4 separate regions of the Homo sapiens genome follow, and all the other regions are linked to region 1. The links come from fine-mapping of genetic effects on gene expression. A gene starts in region 1. Each other region holds a variant in brackets. All regions are shown on one strand. Distances are from middle to middle.

Evidence for each region.
Region 2: its variant is fine-mapped to the expression of MRGPRX2 in tibial nerve (GTEx, PIP above 0.99). The same link has a PIP of 0.9 or more in breast and subcutaneous fat.
Region 3: its variant is fine-mapped to the expression of MRGPRX2 in esophagus muscle (GTEx, PIP 0.98).
Region 4: its variant is fine-mapped to the expression of MRGPRX2 in esophagus muscle (GTEx, PIP 0.95).

Annotation. Positions count from the first base shown.
Region 1 is chr11:19,056,875-19,064,405 of GRCh38, reverse strand. It overlaps MRGPRX2 (MAS related GPR family member X2), which reads left to right and starts at 3,689. Exons shown (of 2, transcript NM_054030.4): 1 at 3,689-3,787.
Region 2 is chr11:18,922,237-18,929,767 of GRCh38, reverse strand. No RefSeq gene overlaps it. Among named protein-coding and RNA genes, the nearest start is that of MRGPRX1, 13 kb to the left of the region's middle. The variant T/A (reference allele first, on the strand shown) is at 3,678.
Region 3 is chr11:18,939,333-18,946,863 of GRCh38, reverse strand. MRGPRX1 (MAS related GPR family member X1) reads left to right here and starts at 7,450. Exons shown (of 2, transcript NM_001393578.1): 1 at 7,450-7,531. RefSeq lists an enhancer at 3,307-3,808. The variant G/A (reference allele first, on the strand shown) is at 4,912.
Region 4 is chr11:18,768,328-18,775,858 of GRCh38, reverse strand. PTPN5 (protein tyrosine phosphatase non-receptor type 5) reads left to right here. Exons shown (of 15, transcript NM_006906.2): 2 at 3,788-3,920. The coding sequence starts at 3,901. Among named protein-coding and RNA genes, the nearest start is that of PTPN5, 20 kb to the left of the region's middle. RefSeq lists enhancers at 1-177, 4,348-4,847, 4,848-5,349, 5,601-5,650 and a silencer at 5,182-5,231. The variant G/A (reference allele first, on the strand shown) is at 3,721.

The DNA of each region.
Region 1 (7,531 bases):
TGCTCATGGATAGGAAGAATCAATGTCGTGAAAATGGCCATACTGCCCAAAGTAATTTATAGTTTTAATGCTATCCACGTCAGGCTACCATTGACTTTCTTCACAGAAGTAGAAAAAACTACTTTAAATTTCATATGGAAACAAAAGAGATCCTGTATAGCCAGGACAATCCTAAGCAAAAAGAATAAAGCTGGAGGCAACACACTACCTGACTTCAAACTATACTACAAGGCTACAGTAACCAAAACAACATGGTGCTGGTACTAAAACATATATATCGACCAGTGGAACAGAACAGAGGCCTCAGAAATGATGCCACACATGTACAACCATCTGATCTTTGACAAACCTGACAAAAACAAGCAATGGGGAAAGGATTCCTTATTTAATAAATGGTGTTGGGAAAACTGGTTAGCCATATGCAGAAAACTGAAACTGGACCCCTTCCTTACACCTTATACAAAAATTAACTCAAAATGGATTAAAGACTTAAACATAAGACCTAAAACCATAAAACCCTAGAAGAAAACCTAGACAGTACCATTCAGGACATAGGCATGGGCAAAGACCTCATGAATAAAACACCAAAAGCAATGGCAACAAAAGCCAAAATTGACAAATGGGATCTAATTAAACTAAAGAGCTTCTGCACAGCAAAAGAAACTATCATCAGAGTGAACAGGCAACCTACAGAATGAGAGAAAATTTTTGCAATCTATCCATCTGACAAAGGGCTAATATCCAGAATTTACAAGAAACTTAAACAAATTTGTAAGAAAAAATAAACAACTCCATCAAAAAGTGGGTGAAGAATATGAACAGAGACTTCTCAAAAGAAGATATTTATATGGCCAACCAACATGAAAAAATGCTCATCATCACTGGTCATTAGAGGAATGCAAATTAAAACCACAATGAGATACCATCTTACACCAGTTAGAATGGAAATCATTAAAAAGTCAGGAAACAACAGATGCTGGAGAGGATGTGGAGAAATAGGAACGCTTTTACACGGTTGGTGGGAGTGCAAATTAGTTCAACCATTGTGGAAGACAGTGTGGCGATTCCTCAAGGATCTAGAACCAGAAATACCATTTGTCTCAGCAATCCCACTACTGGGTATATACCCAAGAGATTATAAATCATTCTACTATAAAGACACATGCACACATACGTTTATTGCAGCACTATTAACAATAGCAAAGACCTGGAACCAACCCAAATGCCCATCAATGATAGACTGGATAAAGAAAATGTGGTACATATACACCATGGAATTCTATGCAGCCGTAAGAAAAGGATGAGTTTATGTTCTTTGCAGGGACGTGGATGAAGCTGGAAACCATCATTCTCAGCAAACTAACACAGGAACAGAAAACCAAACACTGCATGTTCTCACTCATATGTGGGAGTTGAACAATGAGAACACATGGATACAGGGAGGGGAACATCACACACTGGGGCCTCTCAGGGGGTGGGGAGCTAGGAGAGGGATAGCACTAGGAGAAATACCTAATGTAGATGACGGGTTGATGGATGCAGCAAACCACCACGGCATGTGTATACGTAGGTAACAAACCTGCACGTTCTGCCCATGTATCGCATAACTTAAAGTATAATTTTAAAAAAATAAAATAGAACTTCTAGAAATTAGTAATATAAAAATTGGATTTAAACTTCAGTGGATAGATTAAACAGATGATTAGACACAATGGAAAGAATCTAGTTAACTGGAAGATACATCTGAAGAAATTACCCAGAAAGCAGCCTCAGAGACAGAGACGAGACATAAGGAAAAGGTTAAAGAAATAAGGATGATAGAAGAAGAGGGCTAACATATGTTGAATTAGACTTCCAGAAAGAGATAATACTAAAAGTGATAATGAGAGCTAATAATTTTATAGTACTTACTATGTGCTCCTATTGTAAATCATTTATATACATTAAATTATTAATCTTCACAGCAAACCTATAGATTAATAATGTTATCCCCATTTTACTGATGAGGAAACAAACATAACAGAGTTACAAAATCTGGCTAAGGTCCCATAGGAGAAATGCCAAGTAGCCTGGTCTTGTGTTCTTCACCGTTATGTTAATATTTAAAGAGATTATAGCATTAAATTGTTTAAAAATGTTAAATGATGATAATTTTAAAATCTAGGAAACTCCACAAATCCCAAACATGATTTGAAAAAGAGTCACCAGATACAATTTGGTGAGAATGTATCATAGCAGAGAAAAATAAAAGCTCTTAGAGGAAAAAAAGGCAGATCACCACAAGCAAATGGCAACCTGACTGATGGCCGCAACAGTAACCCTGGCAGTCAGAACATGGATCTTCAATGTGCTGGAAGAAAGAAACTATCACCCTACAATGCCATGCCTGGAAAAACCATCTTTAGAAGACGAGGGTGAAACAATGACATTTTCAGATAGATAAAAGGAGGCATTTACCATGCAGAGACTCTCACAGAAGGAACTCCTGAAGAATGTGTTTTGAGAAATGGAAGATATGAGATGTAAAATGGGAGGATGAGCAAAAGCATTGGTGATTATGTGGATAAATCTGAATAAACACTGACTATTTAAAACAATAATAAGTGTTTCATTTGTTGGAGGGAAACAGAATCAAAATCAAATAATAGAGCACAGTAGGTTAGACAGTAACAGAAGTTAAAGCTTTCTAAGGTCCTGCTGCTGCTCATGAGGAAAGCAGATTTCTGGGGACAAATGCATGGTTTACCCACTGCACCAAAGTATAATACAAGAAAATGCTGAGTCTCAGAACTCGCCTCAATCAACACATGTTCCCTGTCTGAGGTCACCCAGCTGCTCTGGAATGCAAAGGGGCATGATCTTGTATGGTGTTCATCATTGTGTCTTCATTGCCTGGAACGGTACCTGACATATCATAGGCAAACAATAAACAGTGTTGAATGAATGAATAAATGAGTGAATAATTTCTTCTGATTGTCTTAAATGCTTCATAATTGTTACTTATAACTCAATTTGGCTGCAGCATAGGCACATGAAAGGAAGTCATAGGAGATAAGGCTGAAAATATTGGTTGGCTCTAGATGATCTAAAAATAATCTAGCTAATAAATATCATGATGTAGAGGGAGAAACGTGACAGATGGTGCATGTGATGTGCTAAGTCCCCTATATTTTATAAGGAGACTCAATATATCTAGTTGTTAACATCGATAAATCAAAAATAGAAATGTTGTTTTATTACGCAAAGCTTTTTTAAAAAAAAGAATGGAAACTGTATGCAGTGGTTGCTTTTGGGGAATGAGACTTCGAGAGACTTTGCATTTCATTTTATACACCTTAGTGTCATTTGAAATAAACCTGATTTTGAAAGGTCAAGTAAGCCAGGGCCTTGAATGCCAAGCAGAAGAGGGCAGACTATTCTTTAGCTATGAAAGCTCACGTCGCTTGATTGGTCTGCTTCCTGGATGCTCATTGTGGGCAATGAAAGACTTCAGGACGGTGATTCCTTGCAGGGAGTGGGGCCGGAGAGGGTAGGGGAGAAACCAAGATAAGTGATTGGAGTCAGGGCAAATGCTGAGAAACATCTCATGTGGTTTCCTGTGTCATACTCTTATTTTCCAGCACCCTCTGTACAGGAAATCACAGGGTTGTTGAGCATCTTGATAAGCTTCACTCAGTCATCAGGTTTCACTCCAGATCCTGCAGGCATCTCCCCATCCTCAGCTGTTTGCCAGTCCCAGGAAAGCACTTCTCAACTCACCAACTCCAGTAGAAAGAAGGGTGTTAAGGTAAGAGTTTGTTCAAGAACCATCTTCTTTCAAAGGCAGTTTTGGTTTTTACCTTAGTCCACATCCTGATGAATTCATTAGGAAAAGAAGACAGGAAGCTCCTTTGAGGAAGCTTTGGATGCTGGCAGCTTAGATGCTGGGAGATCCGAATGGGGTCAAGCAGGTTCGTCCCACTTCTCTTCTATCTACCAATATTCTCCCCTTCTCTTCGACCATTCAAATCTGAAACTATGGAGAGAAAGATTTTGCTGATTTTAATTTAGGGGCAGGCTAGAATGAAGTCATTACTTCCCTAAGCTAAATTGTTATTTAAAACCTCAGGTTGCACTGATTTTCTTGTTATTCAAAAGGTTTTTCCTTCATATCTGTCATTGTCCCAGCAGAAAACACACATCACACACTCTAAAGGGGTAGTTTAGAGGAGTTTAGTGAAGAGACTGTTTACAACGGCGTGAACAGGGATTAAGGAATGATGAAGCCCTCAAAGGCAAGTGATAGTGGAGGGCTGTTACCGTTGCTAGGTCTGAAGTGATAAGGAGAAAGAGAAGTTCTGAGAACTCAGAATGTGCTGTAGCGGTAACTGTAACTGTAACTATAGCTGTGGCTACAGGAAAGGGCCACCAGGCAGGGCTATGTCCTTAGGTAGAAAAACACTGCCACTGCCAACTCACAGCCCTTCAGGGCGCAGGGAGAGAGCCAGGAAATTTTTAAAAAATCATCCCCCAATCTACTGTCAATGTGTCCCTTTGGCTGAAAAAAAAAGTCACCCTCCAATCTCCTGTCAATGTGTACCCTTTGGAGCCTGAGTGAAAGACAGCCCATTGACGAGGCACAGACATGTCTCCTCCCAGGATGCAAAGGCAGGTAGAGAAGGATGGACATGAGATCCTAATAGCAAATAGGAAAGTCCATTTCTTCCCATAGCCTCTTCTCAGTTTGTCTTTCCTGAGACTTTCTCTATTAATGTGATTGAATCAATTTCTCATTCTATCACCTCCCTTTTTTTTAATTGTTTGACCTTCCCATCTAGTGTCACTTCTTTGGACTAGTCTCTCACTATCATCATAAATGCCTTGAGAATGGAATGTGGTTGGGAAAAAAAGGGATTGGGAGTACATAGGTACTCCCAGCTATAAGTACACAGGTATGTGTAATGTAAGTTTATGATTTTGGCTTCTCTAAAAAGAAACCTATTATAGTGATAATCAAAAAGAATGTTTACTAGACTTGGGCTGATAACTCTAAGACATCAAACATCAAGGCTCCTTCCAATTTCTATTTCCCCATCCCTAAAGCGGTACCCTTACCCTCATGGTCCTACATGGCTCCCAAACACATCAGCATTCCAGCCAGAGAGAAGAGAAAAAAAGAAAGAGTACAGGAGTAGCTGGTTATATCACTTTCTCTCACCTCCCCTTGACCATCACATATGGTTACATGGTGCCATTAGCATAAAGGGAAGCTGAGAAATGGGCCTTTTTCTGATCTAAGACTCAGAATTATTATGTGTGAGAAAAGGAGAATGGCTTTTGGGGCAACAAGCAGTCTCTATAGCCCGATTCTCTTTTAGCATCTGTGCTCACCTGGAGATTTTTCTCAACACTGCCTCACAAATAGTGAATGATGTAGACATGGAACAGAAATAAACCTAGGACAGGGCCCCAGGAGACTGGAGCTGGTATTGGACCTGCTTTTCACCATGTGATTCAGGAAACTCTTTTGTACACGTTAAGCCTGTCTTTCTTTGTTAAATGAGCGTATTACAATAGATGGCCTCCAAGGGATATGTGTTGGAGGCTGGGGATATAATAGTGAACAACCACAACAAAAATGTTGAGCTTAATGAGGGAAGTAAAAGAAAAAACAGACATACACTTAAAAATACAGGTGCAGGGCCGGGCACGGTGGCTCACGCCTGTAATCCTGGCACTTTGGGAGGCCGAGGCGGGCAGATCACAAGGTCAGAAGTTCGAGACCATCCTGGCTAACACAGTGAAACCCCGTCTCTACTGAAAAAAAAAATACAAAAAATTAGCCAGTCGTGGTGGTGGGCACCTGTAGTCCCAGCTACTCGGGAGGCTGAGGCAGGAGAATGGCGTGAGCCCAGGAGGCGGAGCTTGCAGTGAGCCGAGATCGAGCCACTGCACTCCAGCCTGGGTGACAGAGCGAGACTCCATCTCAAAAAAAAAAAAAAATACAGGTGCAAACTGTGTTCAGTGCCACGAATAAAAAGGCCAACCTGCCCTGAGGGAGGACAACAGAAGTGGTTTTCTTCCATATCCTCACAAGGCCAACCAGGGCTACAGGAACTAAGACAGCATGTGATGGATGCATTCAGTCCTTGATGCCAATTCTGCACCCCCATGGAGGACACATTCACTTTCCCCTTGGAGGCCTCCAACCCATGAGAGTTTTCTGCAGTGTGGAGTGATTGACGGCTGTTTTTCTGAAGCAAGAAAGAGCTCTTGCATTCAGTTGCTTATTCTCAGTTGGCTTCTATTCATATCTCTTCTCCTTATTTGATTAATCTCTCTTCCTTACTGTTTCTTAAAGTTGCTTAATCTAGGCTTAAAAAACTGCAATTTCGACATTCCATTTTGGATTTGATATGAGCATTACTTGTTGCTTTTCTCCTTTCTTCATGTGTAGTTGGTATTGAACCCTTGCAATGGGGCTGCAAGGCTGGTTAAGAACAAGCCCTCTGACACAGACCTGTGGGTTCAAATGCAGGCTCTACCACTTGTTTGTGAGACCTGAAGCATATTACTCAATACATTTGTGCTTTAATCTCCTTCTCTGTAAAATGGGACTAATAATAGTACTGACCTCACCAGGCTCTGAAGAAGATTTAAAGAGGCTATACCTGAAGAGCATTCAGCCAGCTGCTATTATTCACCCCATTATGAGTAAGGGCTCCTTCCCAAGTGTAATTTGCATAAGCATCTGCCTTTTCCCCTCAAAGCCCTGCACAGTGTAGACATGGTTCTTTTTTCTAATTTCCCACTCCTTTCCCCAAATAATCCTGTTCACAAATGCTTTAATTTGCAAAGAAAGCTCAAAATCATCTGGGGGAAGTAATGGGTCCACCTTAGATGTATTCATACCACAACACCCTCTAGTTACCTCTAGACACTAGACACTCTCAATTGCTGCCTCTCTCTCCTTTTCCCAAATTGCCCCCTTTTCCTCCAAGATGCAGAGAAATTCAGATAAACCCTGAATCCTCTCCATAAACTGGAAGTTTAAACTCTTTTGGGTGCTGAGCAAAAGCCATATACTAGCCCTTCCTGGATTGAAGATATGACAGTGGCCATTATTCACTATCTGTGTAGGCAGAAGCAATCCCTTCAAATACACCAGAGCTTTCCCAGAAGGAAACATGAAGAATGATGTTTTCTTCATTTCTTTACATGTGTGTTTTTTAGTGACTAATTTCATTTTAAAATGTTGGTGTTCCACTTAGCCCAAATTTTCAACTACTCTTGGCTCCCCATGCATGCATGCATGCATTCATTCATTCATTTATATGTGGTACAAACTTCTTGACCCTCCACTATGCCCTCACATTGAGCTAGGCACTGAGGACACAGAAATGGATAAGAGAAAAACTCTTTCTGTTTTCATAAAGCTGACCCACTGAGCAATTTCTAGTCTGACAGGCCTGGCTGTCCTCAGACCTGTCCTAGCAAGAAGTCACCTCTCCGTTATGACCCTAAATCACAATCTCCATTCTGACTGTTGATG
Region 2 (7,531 bases), 130 kb after region 1:
GACTGCATGGCCAACATGGATCACATGCTCATTCCAGGCAAGCCAAGCAGATAGTGAGGTTATGGGATTGCCCCTGTCTGAAACTGTGCCATTTGTGCATTTGTGCTCAGGTATCTCTTTTCAGAATATGTGGGTAAAGTGTGACTTTACCATAACCATGGACTGAAGATAAATAGTGTTGTGATCCAGACCACCTGAGAAATTTACGTCTCTACACAGTGACTATAATCACAGTAAGCATATGTTCTTCTCACCCATGTGGAAGCGACCTAGAATCCAAAGAGACTGCTCTGATGCTTGTTCTGTATGACGGTGTGGTATCAGCTGGGCACCATTTTTGTCAATGTACCAATGCTCACTATAGATACAGATGGCATTTGTTTGCTGTTATCTAGCAGTTACAGTAGAGTATAAAAAAAGAAATCTCAATGCTCATGCCCATCATATTGGTCCAATTGTTCTGAAACCTTGCAGGATGCAAACACAAGGAAGGAGGGCAGAGACAGAGCAGACCTCATTCCTGAGCGTGTATGTAGAAGTGAGTGGATCATGGAAGACTTCGTGTAATAGGTAGAATTTTAACCGATGACTACAATTAACCCAGCATTACTATTGTAATTATACCCTAGTAAATTTTGCCAGTCACCTAAATTTTTGTATTGGGCAAGGAGAGATAAATAGAATCTGGACAGATGGAAATTGGACGAGAGATAATTTACAGTGGCACCGTTAATAAAAGCATAGAGTTTTTTGGGGAATGGTGAATAATTCATACATGTGTTTTATTCCTTGTGTCACCCCATGTATTTGGTCATGGTGGCAAGATCCATCTTAAATAGAATCACAAGACTGGAGTACTCGGAATAATGAGCATTAACTTTTGTGGCCTTGAAGTGATAGGGGTTGGTGTTCGTTTTGTGATATTCACAGGGGTGAGCTCTATATTAATGTAAAGTCCAGAGAGGGCCAGGCAGGGCAGCCCAACAGGACAAATCACAAAGGCAATGCCCTGCTCTCCTTACCCTCCTCACGGTGATATGTCTAGCCCTCCAGGGTCAGAAGGCATCGATTAAAAAAAAACAAGAAAAAGTCTGGGGTTTAAGGGAGAAGAGAAAAGCAATGGAATGCAGCCCCTTCTCTGGAAATCCAACATTGTAACTGTCACATAAAAATTCAGACCCAAACTCTGCATAGCTTTGATATGGATGCCCAAAAATTTCTATTAAAATTATGTGTCACCTAGCACCTCTTTGTAACGTAATATCTGTAGTGACTTGACATTGAGTTTAATACTCCTGTTTTAACATCCTGGTACACATGTGAGAGAATAATACATATTAACCGCAGACATTCTGAAGAAAATTGTTATTCCCACTCCAGGTGTGCAGGCACACTTGCCTTCTTATCAAAGACATGTACAATTATTGCTGAGAGTAGAGATGCATGATTCAGACTTAAGTTGTGTCTGTAAAAGTGTATGTATTCATTTTAAGAGTTATTGGAAACAAATATGATAAAAATTTAATATGTGCTTAATTTTGTGGAAGGTGTCTGTTAGTGCTTACTATGTTATCTTCTAGCCTATGTGCCTGGTTTACAAACTTCCTTCCAGCAAACCCCATGTCTTCATTCTTGGTGACTTCAATATCCATGGAGGTAAGTCCATAGAACGAACAGGTCTTTGTTTTTTAAGTTTTCGTTGTAAATTAATTGTAGACTATGAAGAAGTTATGAAAACAGTACAAAGAGTTCCTGTATGCCCATCACCCAATCTACAGCAATATTTACATGTTAAATAAATGTATTATCAAAACCAGGAAATTGACATTGATACCATCTAATTATCTACACTACAAAACTTATCAAATTTCACCAAATATCTATGGTACCATCTTACCAAATTTTACCACTGTTTGCATGCACTCATTTTTGGAGTGAGATATTCCTCTATGTTTCATTCCATAACATTTTGTCACAGGTGTAGATTCATAACCACAATCGCATTACATACAGAAGTGTTTCTTCACCACAAAGATTTCCCTTGGGCTCCTCCTACTGTCATACCCACAGTATGTTTCTTCCCAAATTCCTCTAGTGATTGATCTATTCTTCATCTCTATAATTTCATCATTTCAAAAGTGTTATATAAATGGAATCATATAGTATCTAATCTTTTGACTTTGGCTTTTTTCATTCAGCATAATGTCCTCAGGATCCACCCAACTTTTTGCAGGTATCCATAGCTTATTGCTGACTTTTTTTTATACTACTGAGTAGTGTTCCATTGTATGGATGTACTATGCTTTGTTTCACTATTCACAAGTGGAAAGACATTGCTGTTTTTTCTAACGTGGCATTTATAAATAAAGCAGCTATACACGTATGTGTACAGACTTTTTTATTTTACTTTAAGTTCTGGGATACATGTGTATAATCTGCAGGTTTCTAACATAGGTATACATCTGCCATGGTGGTTTGCTGCAACTATCAACCCATCATCTAGGTTTTTAGCCCCACGTGCATTAGGTATTTGTCATAATGCTCTCCCTCCCCTTCCTGCCCACCTCCTGACAGGCCCCTGTGTGTAATGTTCCCCTCCCTGTGTTCAACGGTTCTCATTTTTCTACTCCCAATTATGATTGAGAACATATGTTGTTTGGTTTTCTATTCTTGTGTTAGTTTGCTGAGAATTATGGCCTCCAGCTTCATCCATGTCCCTGCTAAGGACACGAACTCATTCTTTTTTATGACTGCATAGTATTCCATAGTGTATATGTACTACATTTTCTTCATCCAGTCTATCATTGATGGGCATTTGGGTTGGTTCCAACCTAACCCACTATTGTAAATAGTGCTGCAATAAACATACGTATGCAAGTGTCTTTATATTAGAATGATTTATAATCCTTTGGATGTATACCCAGTAATCGGATTGCTGGGTCAAATGGTATCTCTGGTTCTACATCCTTGAGAAATCTCCTCACTGTCTTCCACAATGGTTGAACTAATTTACACACCTACCAACAGTGTGAAAGCGTTCCTATTTCTCCACAGCCTCAGCAGTATCTCTTGTTTCCTAATTTAAATTACCATTCTGACTGACACGAGATGGTGTCCCACTGTGGTTTTGATTTGCATTTCTCTAATGACCAGTGATGATGAGCTTGTTTTCATACATTTGTTGGCTGCATAAATGTCTTCTTTTGAGAAGTGTCTGTTCATATCCTTCGCCCACTTTTTGATGGGGTTGATTGTTTTCCTCTTTTAAGTGCTTCTAACTTCCTTGTAAATTCTGGATATTAGACCTTTGTCAAATGATGAGATTGCAAAAATTTTCTACCATTCTTTAGGTTGCCTGTTCACTCCGATGATAGTTTCTTTTGCTGTGCAGAAGCTCTTTAGTTTAATTAGATCCCATTTGTCAATTTTGGCTTTTGTTGCAATTGCTCTTGGCATTTTCATCATGAAGTCATTGCCCATGCCTATGTCCTGAATGGTATTGCCTAGATTTTCTTCTAGGGTTTTTATGGTTTTGGCCTTTACATTTAAGTGTTTAATCCATCTTCAGTTAATTTTTGTATATGGTGTAAGGAAGGGGTCCAGTTTCTGTTTTCTGCATATAGCTAGCCAGTTATCCCAGCACCACTTATTAAATAGGGAATCCTTTCACCATTGCT[T/A]ATTTTTGTCAGGTTTGTCGAAGATCAGATGGTTGTAGATGTGTGGTGTTATTTCTGAGGTCTCTGTTCTGTTCCACTGGTCTATATATATCTGTTTTGGTAACAGTACCATCCTGTTTTGGTTACTGTAGCCTTGTGATATAGTTTGAAGTCAGGTAGCATGATGCCTCCAGCTTTGTTCCTTTTGCTTAGGATTGTCTTGGCTATACGGGCTCTTTTTTGGTTTTAAAATTTAAAGTAGTTTTTTCTAATTCTGTGTAGAAAGTCAAGGGTAGCTTGATGGGAATAGCACTGAAACTATAAATTACTTTGGGTAGTATGGCCATTTTCACGATACTGATTCTTCATACCCATGAGAATGGAATTTTTTTCCATTTGTTTGTGTCCTCTCTTACTTCCTTGAGCAGTGGTTTGTGGTTCTCCTTGAAGAGGTCTTTCACAACCCTTGTACATTGTATTCCTAGGCCTTTTATTCTCTTTGTAGCAATTGTGAGTGGGAGTTTACTCATGACTTGGCTCTCTGCTTGTCTATTATTGGTGTATAGAAATGCTTGTGATTTTTACAAATTGATTTTGTATCCTGAGACTGCTGAAGTTGCTTACCAGCTTAAGGAGTTTGGGGCTGAGACGATGGGGTTTTCTAAATATAGAATCATGTCATCTGCAAACAGAGACAATTTGACTTCCTCTCTTCCTATTTGAATACCCTTCATTTGTTTTTCTTGCCTGATTTCCCTGGCCAGAACTTCCAATGCTATGTTGAATATGAGCGGTGAGACAGGGTATTTTTGTCTTGTTTCCGGTTTTTAAAGGAAGTGCTTCCAGTTTTTGCCCATTCAGTATCATATTGGCTATGTGTTTGTCATAAATACTTCTTATTAATTTGAGTATATTCCATCAATACCTAGTTGATTGAGAGTTTTTAACATGAAGGGATGTTGAATTTTATCAAAGGCCTTTTCTGCATCTATCGAGATAATCACGTGGTGTTTGTTATCGGTTCTGTTTATGTGATGGAGTACACTTGTTGATTTGTGTATGTTGAACCAGTCTTGCATCACAGGGATGAAGCCGACTTGGTCATGATGGATAAGTTTTTTGACGTGCTGCTGGATTCGGTTTGCCATTACTTTATTGAGGATTTTTGCACTGATGTTCCTCAAGGATATTGGCCTGCAATTTTTTTTGTTGTTGTTGTGTCTCTGCCAGGTTTTGGTATCAGGATGAGGCTGGCCTTATAAAATGAATTAGGGAGGAGTCCCTCATTTTCTATTGTTTGGAATAGTTTCAGAAGGAAGAGTACCAGCTCCTTTTGTACCTCTGGTAGAATTTGTCTGTCAATCTATCGGGTCTTGGGCTTTTGTTCATTGGTATGCTATTAATTACTGCCTCAATTTCCAAACTTGTTATTGGTCTATTCAGGCATTCAACTTCTTCCTGGTTTAGTCTTGGGAGGGTGTATGTGTCCAAGAATTTTTCCATTTCTTCTAGATTTTCTAGTTTATTTGCTTTGAGGTGTTTATAGTATTCTGTGATGGTAGTTTGTATTTCTGTGGGATCAGTGGTGATATCCCCTCTATCATTTTATTGTGTCTATTTGATTCTTCTCTCTTTTTTTCTTTACTAGTCTAGCTAGTGGTCTATCTATCTTGTTAATGTTTTCAAAAAAACAGTATGGCTATGGCTAGCTCCTAGATTCACTGATTTTTTGGAAGGGTTTTTGGTGTCTCTATCTCCTTCAGTTCTGCTCTGATCTTAGTTATTTCTTGTCTTCCATTAGCTTTTGAATTTGCTTGCTTTTGCTTCTGTAGTTTTTTTAATTGTGATGTTAGGGTGTTGATTTCAAGCCTTTTCAGCGTTCTGATGTGGACATTTGGTGCTATTAATTTCCCTCTTAACAGTGCTTTAGCTGTGTCCCAGAGATTCTGGTACATTGTCTCTTTGTTCTTATCAGTTTCAAAGAACTTCTTTATTAGCTGTGTCCCAGATACTGGTATGTTGTCTCTTTGTTCTCATTAGTTTCAAAGAACTTCTTTATTTGTGCCTTCATTTTTTTATTTACCCAGTAGTCATTCAGGAGTAGCTTGTTCAACTTCCATGTAGTTGTGTGGTTTTGAGTGAGTTTCTTAATCCTGAGTTCTCATTTGAATGCACTGTGGTCAGAGAGATTGTTTCTTATAATTTCCAATATTTTGCATTTGCTGAGAAGTGTTTTACTTCCAATTATGTGGTCAATTTTAGAAGAAGTGCTACGTGGCACTGAGAAGAATGTGTATTCTCTAATTTGGAGTGGAGAGTTCTTTTGATGTCTATTAGGTTCACTTGGTCCAGAGCTCAGTTCAAGTCCTGAATATCCTTGTTAATTTTCTGTCTTGTTGATCTATCTGACAGTGGGGTGTAAAAGTCTCCTGCTATTATTATGCTGGAGTCTAAGTCTATTTGTAGGTCTGTAACAACTTGTTTTATGAATATGTGTGCTCCTGTATTGGGTGCAAATATATTTAGGATAGTTAGCTCTTCTTGTTGCATTGATCCCTTTACCACTATGTAATGCCCTCCTTTGCTTTTTTTTCTGTGTTGGTTTATAGCCTGTTTTATTAGAGAGTAGGATTGCAACCACTGGTTTTTTTTGTTTTGTTTTTGTTTTGTTTTTTCTTTGCTTTCCATTTGCTTGGTAAATATTGCTCCATCCCTTTATTTTGAGCCCAAGTGCCTTTGCACGTGAGGTGGGTCTCCTGAATACAGCACACCTACGGGTCTGGACCCTTTACCTAATTTGCCCATCCTTGTCTTTTAATTGGGGGCATTTAGCCCATTTACATTTAAGGTTAATATTGTTATGTGTGAATTTGATCCTGTCCTTATGATGCTAGCTGGTTATTTTGCACATTAGTTGACTCAGTTTCTTCATAGTGTCATTGGTCTTTATATTTTGGTGTGTTTTTGTAGAGGCTGGTACTGGTTTTTTGTTTCCATATTTAGTGCTTCCTTTAGGAGCTCTTGTAAGGCAGGCCTGGGGGTGACAAAATCCCTCAGCATTTGCCTGTCAGGAAAGGATTTTATTTCTCCTTTGTTTGTTGAGCTTAGTTTGGCTGGATATGAAACTCTGGGTTGAAAATACTTTTTTTTTTTTGACTGTTGAATATTGGCCCCCATTCTCTTCTGACTTGTAGGGTTTCTATAGAGAGATCTACTGTTATTCTGATGAGCTTCTCTTTTTAGATAGCCTAACGTTTCTCTCTGGCTGCTCTTAATATTTTTTACTTCAACTTAACTTTGAAGAATCTGACAATTCTGTGTCTTAGGGTTGCTCTTCTTGAGGGGTATCTTAGTGGTGTTCTCTCTATTTCCTAAATTTGAATGTTGGCCTGTCCTGCTAGGATGGTGAAGTTCTCCTGGATAATATCCTGAAGTGTATTTTCGAACTTGGTTCCATTCTCCCCATCACTTTCAGTTGCACCAATCAATTGTAGGTTTGGTCTTTTCACATAGTCCCATATTTCTTGGAAGTTTTGTTCATTCCTTTTCATTCTTTTTTCTCTAATCTAGTCTTCATGCCTTATTTCAGTAAGTTGATCTCCAACCTCTGATATTCTTTCTTCTGCTTGATTGATTCAGCTATTGATACTTGTGTATACTTCACAAAGTCCTTGTGCTGTGTTTTTCAGCTCCATCAGGTCACTTATGTTCCTCTCTGTACTGGTTATTCTAGTTAGCAGTTCCTGTAACCTTTTATCAAGGTTCTTAGCTTTCTTGCATTGGGTTAGAATATGCTCCTTTAGCTCAGAGGAGTTTGTTATTACCCATCTTTTGAAGCCTACTTCTGTCAATTCATCAGTCTCATTCTCCATGCA
Region 3 (7,531 bases), 120 kb after region 1:
CTGAAATTTTCTTTTTTTGTTGTGTCTCTGCCAGGTTTTGGTATCAGGATGAAGCTGGCCTCATGAGTTAGGGAGGAGATCTTTTTTTTCTGTTGTTTGGAATCCTTTCAGAAGGAGTGGTAACAGCTCCTCTTTGTGCCTCTGGTAGAATTTGTCTGTCAATCCATCTGGTCTTGAACTTTTTTTCATTGATAGGCTATTAATTATTGCTTCAATTTCAGAACTTGTTATTGGTCTATTCAGGGATTTGGCTTCTTCCTGGTTTCATCGGAGGAGGGTGTATGTGTCCAGGAATTTATCCATTTCTTCTAGATTTTCTAGTTGATTTGCTTAGAGATGTTTATAGTATTCTCTGATGGTAGTTGTATTTCTGTGGGATCAGTGGTGATATCCCCTCTATCATTGTTTATTGTGTCTATTTGATTCTTCTCTCTTCTTCTTTACTAGTCTAGCTAGTGGTCTATCTATCTTGTTAATGTTTTGAAAAAGCCAGCTTCTGGATTCATTGATTTTTTTGAAGGGTTTTTCGTGTTTCTAGCTCCTTCAGTTCTGCTCTGATCTTAGTTATTTCTTGTCTTCTGCTAGCTTTTGAAGTTGCTTGCTCTTGCTTCTCTAGTTTTTTAAATTGTGATGTTAGGGTGTTGATTTCAAGCCTTTTCAGCTTTCTGATATGGGCATTTGGTATATAAATTTCTCTCTTAACACTGCTTTAGCTGTGTCCCATAGATTCTGGTACATTGTCTCTTTGTTCTCATTGATTTCAAAGAACGTCTTTATTTCTGCCTTAATTTTGTTATTTACCCAGTAGTCATTCAGGAGCAGGTTGTTCAATTTCCATGTAGTTGTGTGGTTTTGAGTGAGTTTCTTAATCCTGAGTTCTAATTTGATTGTACTGCAGTCAGAGAGATTGTTTGTTATTGTTTCCAATCTTTTGTATTTGCTGAGGAGTATTTTACTTCCAGTTATGTGGTCGATTTTTAGAATAAGTGCTATGTGGCACTGAGAAGACTGTATATTCTGTTGATTTGGGGTGGAGAGTTCTGTCGATGTCTATTAGGTTCACTTGGTCCAGAGCTGAGTTCAAGTCCTGAATATCCTTGTTTTCTGTCTCTTTGATCTAATATTGACAGTGGGGTGTAAAAGTCTCCTGCTATTATTATGTGGGAGTCTAAGTCTCTTTGTAGGTCTGTAAGAACTTGTTTTATGAATGTGGGTGCTCCTGTATTGGGTGCATATATATTTAGGATAGTTAGTTCTTCTTGTTGCCTTGATCCCTTTACCATTATGTAATGCCCTCCTTTGTCTTTTTTGATCTTCATTAGTTAAAGACTGTTTTATCAGAGACTAAGATTGCAACCGCTGCTTTTTTTTGCTTTCCATTTGCTTGGCAAATATTTTTCCATCCCTTTATCTTGAGCCTATGTGTGTCTTTGCACGTGAGATGAGTCTCCTGAATATAGCACACCTATGGGTCTTCACTGTTTATCCAATTTGCCTGATGCTAGCTGGGTATTTTGCACATTAGTTAATGCAGTTTCTTCATAGTGTCATTGGTCTTTATATTTTAGCGTGTTTTTGCAGTGGCTGGTACCAGTTTTTCCTTTCTATATTTAGTGCTTCCTTCAGGAGCTCCTGTAAGGCAGGCCTGGTGATGACAAAATCCCTTACAATTTGCCTGTCGGGAAAGGATTTTTTTTCTTCTTTCCTTATGGAGCTTAGATTGGCTGGATATGAAACTCACGGTTGAAAATTCTTTTCTTTAAGAATGTTGAATATTGGCCCCCACTCTCTTCTGCCTTGTGGAGTTCCTGCAAAGAGATCCGCTGTTATTCTGATGGGCTTCCCTTTTAGGTAGCCTGACCTTTCTCTCTTGCTGCCTTTAACATTTTTTCCTTTATTTCAACTTTGGAGAATCTAACAATTATGTGTCTTGGGGTTGCTCTTCCCGAGGAATATCTTAGTGTTGTTCTCTCTGTTTCCTAAATTTGAATGCTGGCCTGTCTTGCTAGGATGGTGAAGTTCTCCTGGATAATATCCTGAAGTGTATTTTTGAACTTGGTTCCATTCTCCCCATCACCTTCAGTTGCACCAATCAATTGTAGGTTTGTCTATTCACATAGTCCCATATTTCTTGGAGGTTTTGTTCATTCATTTTCATTCTTTTTTCTCTAATCTAGTCTTCATGCCTTATTTCAGTAAGTTGATCTCCAACCTCTGATATTCTTTCTTCTGCTTGATTGATTCAGCTATTGATACTTGTGTATACTTCACAAAGTCCTTGTGCTGTGTTTTTCAGCTCCATCAGGTCACTTATGTTCCTCTCTGTACTGGTTATTCTAGTTAGCAGTTCCTGTAACCTTTTATCAAGGTTCTTAGCTTTCTTGCATTGGGTTAGAATATGCTCCTTTAGCTCAGAGGAGTTTGTTATTACCCACCTTTTGAAGCCTACTTCTGTCAATTCATCAGTCTCATTCTCCATGCAGTTTTGCGCTGTTGCTTGAGAGGAGTTGCGATAGTTTGGAGGAGAAGAGGCTTTCTGGTTTTTGGAATTTTCAGTATTTTTGCACTGCTTTCCTCATATTTCTGGATTTATCTACATTTGATCTTTTAGGCCGATAACCTTTGGGTGGGGTTTTTGTGTGGGGGTCTTTTTAGTTGATGTTGATGTTATTGCTTTCTGTTTGCTAGTTGGTCTTCTAACAGTCAGGCCTCTCTTCTGCAGGTCGGCTGCAGTTTGCTGGAGGTCCAATCCAGACCCTGTTCACCTGGGTATCACCAGTGGAGGCTGCAGAACAGCAAAAGATGGCTGCCTGATCCTTTCTCTGGAAGCTTCATTCCAGAGGGGCACTGGCCTGATGCCAACTAGAGCTCTCCTGTATGAGGTGTCTGTCCACCCCTGTTAGGAGGTCTCTCCCAGTTGGGAGGCACGGGGGTCAGGGACCCACTTGAGGAGGCAATCTGTCCCTTAGCAGAGCTGGTGCACTGTGCTGGGAGAACCCCCCTTGTCAGGATCAGCTGCTATCTTCAGAGGCAGCAGGCAGGAAAGATTAAATCTGCTGCGGTTGCGCCCACAGCCTCCCCTTCCCCCACGTGCTCCATCCCAGGGAGATAGGAATTTTATCTGTAAACCCCTGACTGCGCCTGCTGTCTGTCCTTCAGAGATGTCCTGCCCAGTGAGGAGGAATCTAGAGAAGTAGTCTGGCCATAGCTGCTTAGCCGCGCTGTGGTGAATTCCGCCCAGTCCAAACCTCCCAGCCTTCTTAGCACTGTCAGGGGAAAACCGCCTACTAAAGCCTCAGGAATGGCGGATACCCCTCTCTCCACAAAGCTCAATCGCCCCAGGTCGACTTCAGACTGCTGCGCCGGCAGTGAGAATTTCAAGCCAGTGGTTCTTTGCTTGCTGGGCTCTGTGGGAGTGGGACCCATTGAGGCAGGGGACCACTTGTCTCCCTGGCTTCAGCCCCCTTTCCAGGGGAGTGAACGGATCTGTCTCACTGGAGTTCCAGGCACCACTGGGGTATGAAAAAAACTCCTGCATCTAGGTCGGTCTCTGCCCAAACAGCTGCCCAATATTGTGCTTGAAACCCAGAGCCCTGGTGGTGTAGGCACACGAGGGAATCTCCTGATCTGCGGATCGCAAAAACCATTTCAAAAGCGTAGTACTGGGCTGGTAGCAGGGTTCCTCACAGCTTCCCTTGATTGGGGGACAGGTGTCCCCTGGCTCCTTGTACTTCGCAGATGAAGCGATGCCCCACCCTGCTTCTCCTTGCTCTCCGTGGGTTGTACACACTGCCTAACCAGTCTCAATGAGATGAACTGGGTACCTGAGTTGGAAATGCAGAAATCACCAGTCTTCTGCGTTGGTCCCGCTGGGAGCTGCAGACCAGAACTGTTTTTATTTGGCCATCTTGGCCCCCCTCCTGTACAGATTTTTAAGTGAACACAGTTTCCCAGTTTCTAGGATACATTTTCCAGGTTCTAGGATACGCTGGATTGCTGGATTATATGAAAATGCAAGAAGATTTCCCAGAGTAGCTCTACTATTTTACTTTCTCATTGGCAGTGTATGAGACCTCCAATTCCTTCAAATCTCAGCCAATATTTGAAACTATCAGTATTTTATATTTTAGCCATATTGAGAGGGTAGAGTGGTATCTCGTGACTTTTATTTGTTGTCCTAAACATTAGTGATGTTGAGCATCTTTTTATGTGTTTATTTGTCATGCATATATGTCCTTGCTGAAGTATCAGTTCGTCTTTTACCCTGCTTGAATCCAGCTCTCCACTAACTCCATGCCTGTTCCCATAGAACAGAGTGTGGCTGCAGCACAACACACAACCATGCCCAGCGGTTTCACTGTACATTTATAACCTTGAACCTGAAAGGTCCATTTATATCTCCTGAACACTCACGTAACATTTCCATAATTGCCTCTCACTCTCCAAAGGAAAATCTTCACGACATTTTCTCTCTCCTGAAACCGCCTACTCTTTATTTATTTTTTTAATCACTGTCAGGTGATGCTCTTCTGAGAATTACTCAATCTCCCCAGAGGGAACCTACCTCCCCATGTGCCTCTGAGCACACCTCTCTGCATTTTCTCTCATGCCAGGAAATGGGCTCTGCAAATTCCTGTTTGAAACCACCCTTTCCATTTGTGCAGTTTCCCCTTTTGCCTCCCCAGAAACATTTTATAGCATTATTGCCTCTCCCTTCTACATCTTCAATGTTTCCTTCTCTAATGGATCCTTCCATTGCAACTGAAACACCCCATCCTATTTGTGGCATAAAACACCATCTAAGCAACCATTCGTCTCTATCCACAGCCTGATTTATCTTCTTTATTTTAGAAAAAAATATCTTCCAAAGAGATTTCTGTACTCATTATCTTCATTTCCTCACCCTTCCTT[G/A]TATCTTCTCATATCTCTAACTCCCTCTCTTAGCTAGATCATTAAATTTATGTTTTTTGTTTGAAAATTTATTTGTGACATGGTAATAAAGTCAAAGCTTTCAAAAATAATCTTTAAATACACTCACTGAAAACTGTCATTCCCATTTTAGGTCCTCAGGCATCCTTGCCTTGTTAACAAAGACATATCCTATTATACTTACTAATAAGTGTATATTAATTCACAAATATTTAATAATAAAACAATATATATATTTTTCATACAATATATACATTGGTCTGCATTCTTTTTAAAAAATCTAACAAATTCTGCAGGGCCTTTTATATCAGGTTTGTTGCTCTTTCTGGGTAGCTACAGAGTATTCTATTGCATAGATAGACAGTAATTTATACAGTATTGATGGCCATTTTGGCTGTTACCAGTTTTTGACTGTAAATAACACTGCATTTATTAACTCAGAACATAGATCTTTTGAACATGCACAAATATATCTCTAAGATAAATTCTTAGATGAGGAATTACAGAGAGAAAAGGATGGTGCTTTATACATGCTTCCATATGTTGAAAACAGCCTTCACTGGAAGTTGTATCCATCTGCATCCCCAGCAGAAATGAGTGAGGGTACCTGATCCCACTCCATCCCCACACTGTATGCTATAAAACTTAATGGTTTTTTAGATTTTGGTAAATAAAATATAACTCTGTAATTTCAATTGGCATGTCTTTCATTATGAGTTGAATTTCTCCTCTTTCCATATGTTTAGGAGCCATTTTTATTTTTTAGAAATTGTGAATCATGACTTAAAGTTATTTTCTTATTACCTTTTTCAATTTTGAATTATTAACATCATTTAGAAAAATTTGTATCAATAGAGAAAATTTATACTTTGGCTATAACATACATTACCAAACATCTCCCAGTTTATTTATTTAATTTTATTAATTTACTAATTTATTTCTTGAGATGGAGTCTCGTTCTGTCACCCAAGCTGGAGTGCAGAGGCACAGTCTTGGCTCACTGCAAATTTCGTCTACTAGGTTCAATCCATTCTCTTGCTCAGCCTCTCGAGCAGCTGGGATTACAAGCGTGTCCCACCACAACGAATTAATTTTTGTATTTTTAGTAGAGACCAGGTTTCACCATGGTGGCCAGGCTGGTCTCATACTCCTGACCTCAGGTGATCTGCCTGCCTTGGCCTCCCAAAGTGCTGGGATTACAGGGGTGAACCACCATGCCTGGCCACAGTTTATTTATATCTTGATTATGATGGTTAATGTTATGCTAAAAAAAATAACTTTTTTTTTTTTTGAGACAAAGTCTGGCTCTATCAGCCAGGGGAGTGCAATGGTGTGATGTCAGCTCACTGTAACCTCCACGGCCTGGGCTCAAGCCATCCTGCCACCACAACGTCCCAGGTAGCTGGGACTACAGACATGCACCACCACACCAGGCTAGTTTTTGTATTTTTTGTAGAAACGGGTTTTCACTATGTTGCCCAGAATGGTCTCAAACTTGTAAGCTCAAGCAATCCACCCACGCAGCCTCCCAAAGTGCTGGGATTACAGGAATGGGCCATCACAGCTAGCCTTTTTGTCTTTATAAATATTTTCTTTAATATCTTCTGAATTGTATCCTATAATTGAAAGTCTTTTTCCACTTTGATTTAAAAACTATTTGGCTATGGCTTCTCCAGGTAATTGTATTTTCATTATAAAATTTTAAGTAGTGTATTTGCATGTATCCTCAAATCATATGTAAAGTATGTTTCCACCTTTACTTATTTCACACAGAAACTCAGTTGTCCCAATCCCATTCATTCAATTGTGCCTGTTTTACACACTACTTTGATATACAACCTTTATCATAATAGGCATACATTGAAGATATTAGAAGTCCACTTCCACTACTGCAATAAAGCAAATATTACAATAAAGTGAATCACATGAATTTTTGGTGTCCCGGTACATGTAAAATTTATGCTTACACTATACTGTACTCTATTGAGTCTCAATGGCATTATGTCTAAAGCAATGTGCATGCATTACTTAAAAAAATACTTTTTCACTAAGAAATGGTAACCAGCATCAGAAACTTTATCAAGCCAAACGTTTTGCTGCTGGAGGGTCTTGCTTGATATTGATGGCTGCTGAAGTGGCTGCTGAAGGTAAGACAGGCTGTGCCAATATCTTAAAACAAGACAACAGTGAAGTCTGCCACATCAACTGACTCATCCTTTTATGAAAGATTTTAATGTAGCATGCAATGCTATTTGCATAGCATTTTATACACAATAGAACTTCTTTTAAAATGGGAGTCCATTCTCTCAAACTGCGCCACTGTTTTTATCAAGCAAGTTGAACAAGATGGAATGTGATGGGAGAGGCTTATCTCTATTGGATATGGGACAGAGGCCAAGAATCATCTCAGGTAGGGTTTGTGTCTCCAATACCTCTGGCCACTGATTTGTCCATAGTCCTCATACAGGAAATAACAAGTCTGTCCAGCATCTTCATAAGCCTGGATTGCTCACCAGCTTTGACTCCAGCTCCTGTATGCATCTCCTGAATTAAGCAACACAGAAGGGTTCTCTGAAGTCACTGAATCCCAGAAAGGCCCTCC
Region 4 (7,531 bases), 290 kb after region 1:
CACTGCCGTTCCACCCTCTGCCTCGTTAAACCTGACAGGCCTGGAATTGAAGCCTGACCTCTAAGGAAAGGCCCTTAGAGGTCATCTCATTCAGGCCCTTTGGTTTTCATTTGGAGCTACTGAGATTCAGATAAGGGAAATGACTAGCCCAAGGTCACACAGTAGCCTGGGACTAGAGCCCATGGCTTCTGGGCCCTGGGCCAGTGAGTGTATTCGTCATGGCACTGATGGAACACAGCTGCCACCAACACAGGCTCCCCACCCAAGCCAGCCTCCCAAACTCCCCATGCAAGCTAGCCTCCCAAGGCCTGCTTCCTGGGCTGTTGCTTCAAGTGGAGAAACCCGAGGTCGTGGTCCCGCGCAGGACTTCCAGTCGTTCTTCTGGGGAGAACAGCAGTGATCCCAAGCAAGGACACAGGCACAGGGATCTCCCTCTTGCTCCTTCACTCGTTTGCTTGGGTCACTTCACCCCCTGAGCCTTAGTTTTCTCGTCTGTAAAAATGGTGATCATCACATGCTACTCACATAGATTTATGGTGAGGATTTTTTAAAAGAACATATAGAAAGCAACTGCCATGATATGCTGTCTCTTCCTATTGTATTTGCGGAATATTTTTTCTTACCAAAAGCTAAAAAGTGAAAGAGAGGTTAGGAATGTGGGCAATGGGGGAAGTTCTGTGATAACTAGCTGTGTGGCCTTAGGCAGGTCACTTTACTTCTCTGAATTTCCATTTCCGCCTTTAGAAAATGCAGGAAACGTTAGTACGTTCCTCCAGGGGCTGCTGTGAGGACTGAGTTTGCTAACACCTGCCCTGGAGCAGTTCCTGGCCTGTGTGGTCCGGGTGCAGTAGTGACAGCTGCCCTTTCTGTTGTGAAGATACTGTCATTGTTATCCTCTTCGGTCGGGAGCTAAGATGTTACTGAACAGGTGGTCCGAAGATTGCTTCTGCCCTTTTTCCTGCTTCCTTTCTCTCTCAGATCACCTCCTCCTGTTCCCTTCCATCCTCACCAACCTGACCATGAAATTTTAAAAGTGTAGATTTTAAAAGAAAGCCAAAGTGGCCCTGAGAAGAGGCTGGGAGGGTCCACAGAGTCTGAGCTGAATCACTGTGAATTTCTGACCCTCCACCCCAAAGATGTATTTAGGACAGAATGTGTTGGCTTCAATCATGAGCCCCTGGTCTCTCTCAATGCTGCCTATGCAGCTAGCCCCTGCTACTTTGGTCCCAGCAGGGTGGCCAAAGCCAGCAAAGAATCTGTGTGTGTTTTTCCTGCTCCCATCCCACCCAATCTAGGAATTTGGCAGGACGAGGGCTCCTCAAGCCCCCTCCAGCCCCCTCCTCCTCAGAGTACAGGGGGAAGCTGGTAAATTCAGTTCATACTGGACCTTTGGACCAGACCACAGACACCTGCAGGCCCAGCAACGCCTTTCTGTTGTCAGCGAGGGAGGGCACATGGTCCTGGGATGCCTCTCTTGTCCAAAGGCTGCCCCAGACAACTTGGCATTGTTCAGAGCCCTTTGTCTACACCTGCTTCCCCACCACCACCACCCTCATTTCTCTGCTGTGCCTTTGTTGGTGGTTTGCACAGATCCTGAGCACCTGCTGTTCACCAGTCACCATGATAGTCAACATTCACCTTTCTCATTCACTGGTGATCTTCACCGCCATCCTGTGTGGAAGGTGTTGTCATCCGTGTTAGACATATGAGAAAAATTTAAGGCTCAGAGTGATAAAGACACTTTCCTAGAGCCACACAGTTTGACTAGAGCAGAGTGAAGACCTATCCCCAGGGAAGGCTTCCTAGAGCAATTCAAGATTAAGCTGGAGCTTAAAGTCTGAGTTTGATTTTAAGGAGGGGTGCAAAGAGGTGATGGCCTTCCAGGCAAGAGAGACAACGTAAGCAAAGGGTGAAGGGAAGGATGTCCTTCATGGTCACGGGGGTGATGAGGAGGCAGTTACGGTCTGAAATCAGAGTGACTGGAGCAGGTGGCCCAGCAAGGGGGCAGTCCCCAGCTGCAGTCCCAGGCTAGGATGCCCCATCTCTTACCTGATTGACACACCCACCTTTTTGGCTGGTCTCCTGCCTCCCAAGCCAAGAATCTATTCTTAGAACTGGTTGATTTTTTTAATCCTTAATATCAGGTATGGAAGAAATGTCTCATTATGCTCCTTAAATGAAATTAGCCCAGACTCAGAGCTCCCCAGCATCCCTATCTGGTAGGAAATTCAATCCCAGCCATCACTGGAATGACTCTGACCCACTGCTGTGACCCCCATGCCAGGGATGTTTCAAGGAAACCACACTGATTATAGCTGAGATACCCCAGCCCCACTGAAGAGCCCCTCTGGGTCTGCAGACTCTGTGCCTTCTGTCGGGAGGACGCCGTGTGGGGTGCAGCGGAAGCCCTGCAGGCTGAGATCCAGCCCTCTCTATGCACTCAGTGCCACCCACCCACACACCAGGCACCAGTCATGAAACTGATGGGCTCTGTCACCTTCCCAGGCCCGGAGACCCCCTCCCCTTCCTCACACCCCCACCTCCCTGACAAAGAGACACCCGCCCCCAGGTGCTCCAGCTTTTACAAAACAAAGACTGGAAGGATAGCTCCTCCAGGAACTTGGCCTTTGGTCCTGCAGCCAAGCCGCCTCTCCCAAGGGAATATAGGTCTGTCTTACCTCTCTGGAAAGAAGGGGAGGGAAAAGGAAAAAATTCCAAGTGAGCGGTTCACCCCCTTTCCACACTCCCCTTTTAGACTACATTTCTTTCTAGTCCTTGAATGTGTCCTGCTTTGTGTCAATTCCAGGCCCGTCCACATGCCCTCCTTCTACCTGGAGCACCCCACCCCCTCCTGTCTCATCCCACGGCCTCTCACCCCCACTCCTCTTTCACATCTCACCAGAGATGGCCCTTCCTGGGTACCAAACGTCTCCTGAGTCCTCTGCCTCCTTAGGGGTCTGGCTGGCACTCCCAGGGCACCCTGCTCGTCTCCCCGCACACGGGTCACCTGTGTCACCATTGCCTTTTCTTCTTACCTACATCCCCCATGAGATGCTTGTCGTTCATTGTATTCCCAGGGTCCCACACGTAGCCTGAACATAGCAGGTGTTTAGTAAACGGGTTGAACAAATGAATGGTCCAATCCCTGAATCAGACTCAAATGAAAAATGGACAACTGTTGCCCGAGCCCCTCAGCAGGCTGGGCCTACCCTGCACTTTTCATCTTCCCTTCCCTGGGGTCCCTGCCATGCCCGCACCCACTTCTCCCACTCAGAGAAGAGGAGGGATGGAAGGGAAGTCATTTGTCTGGGCACATCCCAAGCAGAGAACACTCAGACCCTGTGTTTGGGATCCAGAACACTCAAGTTTGCAGTCTGCTCAGACGTGAGGACAGATGGCTGGACAGTGGACAGCTGGGCAAGGAGGGTAGGCAGCTTGGCAGGACGGAAATAGCAGTGAACTAAGCATTGGGAGTCCTGGGCTCAGAGCCTATTCATTCCACGAGTTTGCTGCACGCATCAGTCTGGGTTCTGTGGTTGCCAGCAACAGAAGAGGACTCTGAGTAACTTAGGCAGAAAAGATATTTATTAGAAGGCTTTGGGGTATGATATAAATACTGAGTTCTGATTCTGGGCTGTCTGTGTAGCAAGAGGCAAGCAGGGCACCAGGGGAGGAGAAAGGTGACTCCCAGAAGGAAATCAGGATTTTAACTACCTGAAA[G/A]CAAATTGTTGGCACACTGTGTGACCTGAGACTAGTCACTTAATCTCTCTTTGCCCCGTTTTCCCAGCTGGATGATCTGAAGCTGCCCTCTCTCCTTCATTTATATCACCAGCTTGCTTTTTGCTGAGAAAGCTTCCTGCCCTGGAAGATGGCACCCTTCCCCATCCAGACACCTTGGGAATGAATTATGAGGGAGCCAGGTGAGTGAGCGTTTACGCCGTCCCCCTGCAACCCGCCCACTGAGGAGGCCAAGCCTTCTCCATCTGGATGCTCTGGGACACGTGACCCATTCTCATGAGGTGTTCAGCCTGATCATTCCTTTTCCATGAAACCAGCATGCCCTCTGCCCCTGCCTGCTGAACGTGCTGATGAAAATCTGGATGGCATTATGGGCCTCTTCCTGGCTATGGTTTGGCCATCTTCTTTAATTGGGATGCTCCTAGCTGGAGTCTGCCTTCCTAGAGCCCCTAAAGCTACCAACCCTGAGACCCTGCCACTACCCTGCATTTGGCCTTTAAGGTGTACATCAACAGGCTCAGGCCCTGTGCTAAACACCTGGGATGCAGAGGTGGTTGAGGGGGTGAGGATGCTCCAGAGTCGGAAGTTGGTGGGAGAGGCAGGTGCATACACAGCTAACTATAGCAGCAGAACAAAGTAAGAGACAAAGGGACATATGAACCAGGTGTGTGGGGGAGCCCAGAAGTGGGAGGACGCAGTTCTTCCTGAGAGATCAGGGAGTGCTCCGTGGAAGACGCACCGCCTGAGTCGCACCTTGGAGAATGAGTAAGATTTGACAAAAGGGGAAAAGGATCTTCCAGGCTGAGGGAACAGCACAAACAAGGCTCGAAGGGAGGAATGGACAGGTTTGATTCAGCGAATAGAGATGTCAGGTGGGGTTGGAGCTTTAAGAGGGTGGTAGGAGCTCCACGTTGACAGTGAGGGGTATTTACGGGGTACCAGGAGCACAAAGCCCAGGATAGAGGGCATGTCTGCCTGGGCTTGGCTCAGCCTCACACCCAGGAATCCTGGCTTCAGCATCCCAGTTCCCCCTTGCTCCTCACCGACCTTGGAAGCAGGCTCAGGCTCCCTGATTGGCTCAGCAAACCAGCCAGCTCTTTCTCTGCATAAGTCCTGGGCAAAGCTGGGACTTCATGTTAGGAGACTCCAGGATGTCTCCTAATAGCACCCCCCATCCCCCACTCTACCCCCCAGGCAGAGGGGCGGTGCCTTTGTTAGAACACTTCACCCAGCCCACGGCAGCAGCTGTTCTGTATCTTCTGCACTGGCCGTGAACTTCTAGAAAATGGGGTGGGTGGTCTAGGCTGGATCTCCAGCACCCAGCACTGGTGGCGTAGCTGCACAACGCATTACCTTCACACATACGAACGAGCAGAGGAAGGTGATGACCTTCAAGTTACAACAGGCTTGGAGTCTGACCACCATATTTTCATAAGTGAGGCCTCAGACCCAGAGCGCAGAAAGGATTGCCCAAAACCACAAGCGTGATGGGAGGAGAGTGGAAACAGAGCAGTTTGGTTCACAGGAGCACTACTCACAAATAGCCAAAAGGTAGAAACAAGCCAAATGTTCAACTGATGAATAGATAAATAAAACATCGTCTGTCCTACAGTAGAATATTATTCAGCCTTGAAAAGGAATCCATGAAAAGGAATGAAGTACTGATGTATGCTACGGACTTGCTAAGTGCAAGAAGCCAAACACAAAAGCACAAAAGGCTACATATTTTATGATTCCATTTATATGAAATATCCAGAATAGGCAAACCCATAGAGACAGAAAGCAAATAAGCCGTTGCCAGGGGCTGTGGGGAGGAGGACAGGGAGTGACTCCTTAATGAGTACAGGATTTCCTTTTGGGGTGACAAAAATATTCTGGAAGCAGATCATTATGATGGTTGCACAACATTATGAATGTATTAAATGCCACTGAATTGTACCCTTTAAAATGGTCAAAATGTTGAATTTTATGCTATGGGAATTTTAGCACAGTAAAAAGAGTAGTTTCAGACCAGATCGGACGCTACCAGCTGGGTCTAAAGTCCATTCCTTAAACGTAAGCTGCTGCTCCCCCACTTCGTGTTACAGACCTACCCAGCCAGACCAGGTGTGAGAGAGCCAGCATCACTCTCAGTGCAGGGAAGCCACAGGGAAGCCACATGATCAAGTGGAAGAGGGCTTCCCCCGCCACCCCAGGAGGCAGGATTCCTGTCTTCTAGGCTGCTTCTTGCCCACGTGCCTCTGCTGAGGCCTAGCCCCCATCTGCTGCTCCATCCCACTGACCAGCCTACTTCTGATGGCACCAGATGTTCCACACATCTTGGGCCTCCATGCCTTGCTCTTTCTATTTGCTCTACCCAAGAAATCCTTTTCCCAACCCCCCATTCACCTAAAAACATATTTTAAAAACCAGTCCCTGGCCGGGCGCGGTGGCTCACGCCTGTAATCCCAGTACTTTGGGAGGCTGAGGCAAGCAGGATCACCTGAAGTCAGGAGTTTGAGACCAGCCTGACTAATACGGTGAAACCTCGTATCTACTAAAAATACAAAAATTAGCTGGGCATAGTGGCAGGCACCTGTAATCCCAGCTACTGGGAGGCTGAGGCAGGAGAATCACTTGAACCGGGGAGGTAGAGGTTGCAGTGAGCTGAGATAATGCCTCTGCACTCCAGCCTGGGCAACAGAGTGAGACTCCGTCTCAAAAATTAATTAATTAATTAATTTAAAAAAAAACCAGCTCCTGTCTCCCCCTTGGAGAAGACTTCCTCTTCCCCTTGCCCCTCCCACAAATGAGCAGAGCCTTCCCCAGGATGGTCACATGCATACATCAATTAAAGCAGGCATCAGGGTACAGTCGTGTCTGCATGTCTGTCTCCCTGAGAAGACTGGGAGCCTGCAAGGAGGGGCCTGGATTATTCATCACTGTATTCCTAGGGCAGCTCCAGGCCTTGCTCACAGGAGGTGCTCAGCACACGCCTGTTGAATGCGACGATGGCTTTGGGAAGCTACTTTCACTCCGGGACATCCTCCATCAGTGAAGTGGGGGCAGGCTGGGTGATTTCCAAGTCCCTTCATCCCTGGTGGTCTCTGGTTATAAGGGAAGCAGTGGTGGGGGCAGCCCAGCAAGTGGCTGCTGTTGTCACAGGCCAGTGTTCTGTTCCTGTTGCCTGGCTGATAGAAGTGGGGAAGGAGAGAGCAGGAGCCTTAGCAATCCAATAAAAGCAGCTATTTCTGCTCTTGGTGGGGAGGGAGGAAGGCAGCGCCCAGAGACTGGGTTCCCCATCCAGCCTGAATGGGCCATGTATTTTCTTTGGAAAGCTAATTAAACCCTCCTCTGGACAGTCTAGACACGCAGGCTGTGGCTGGGGTTGCCTGGAGTCCTTCGACTACAGGGAAGAGCAGCAGAGGCTCTTGCTCCATTTTCCTTTGCAGTCAAGAGGTGCTACTCGTTCTGCTTTTCTGGTTATGAAATTAGTCATTTTCTAGGAAGCTTATTTATAGAGTCCACTGCACACATGAAGCACTGAGCTATTCTGAACACAGCTTGGGGCCTGAGAGGCTTAAGGTGTGAAAGCAGGTGTGAGTCACACATGGGTCCCCTTCCAGAGGTATCTGGATACTGTGCCTTTCTGTACCCAGCCAGGGGTCAGCCCTCATGGGCTGCCATCCAGCTAGGTGCTCGTTAGGGTAAGGAAAGAACAAGTTTAGGATTGGAAGGTTGGGGGTGGGTGCTCTCAAACACAATCCCTGTGGCCACCACCAACTCAGTATAAAATGTGGGGCAAGTCAGACCC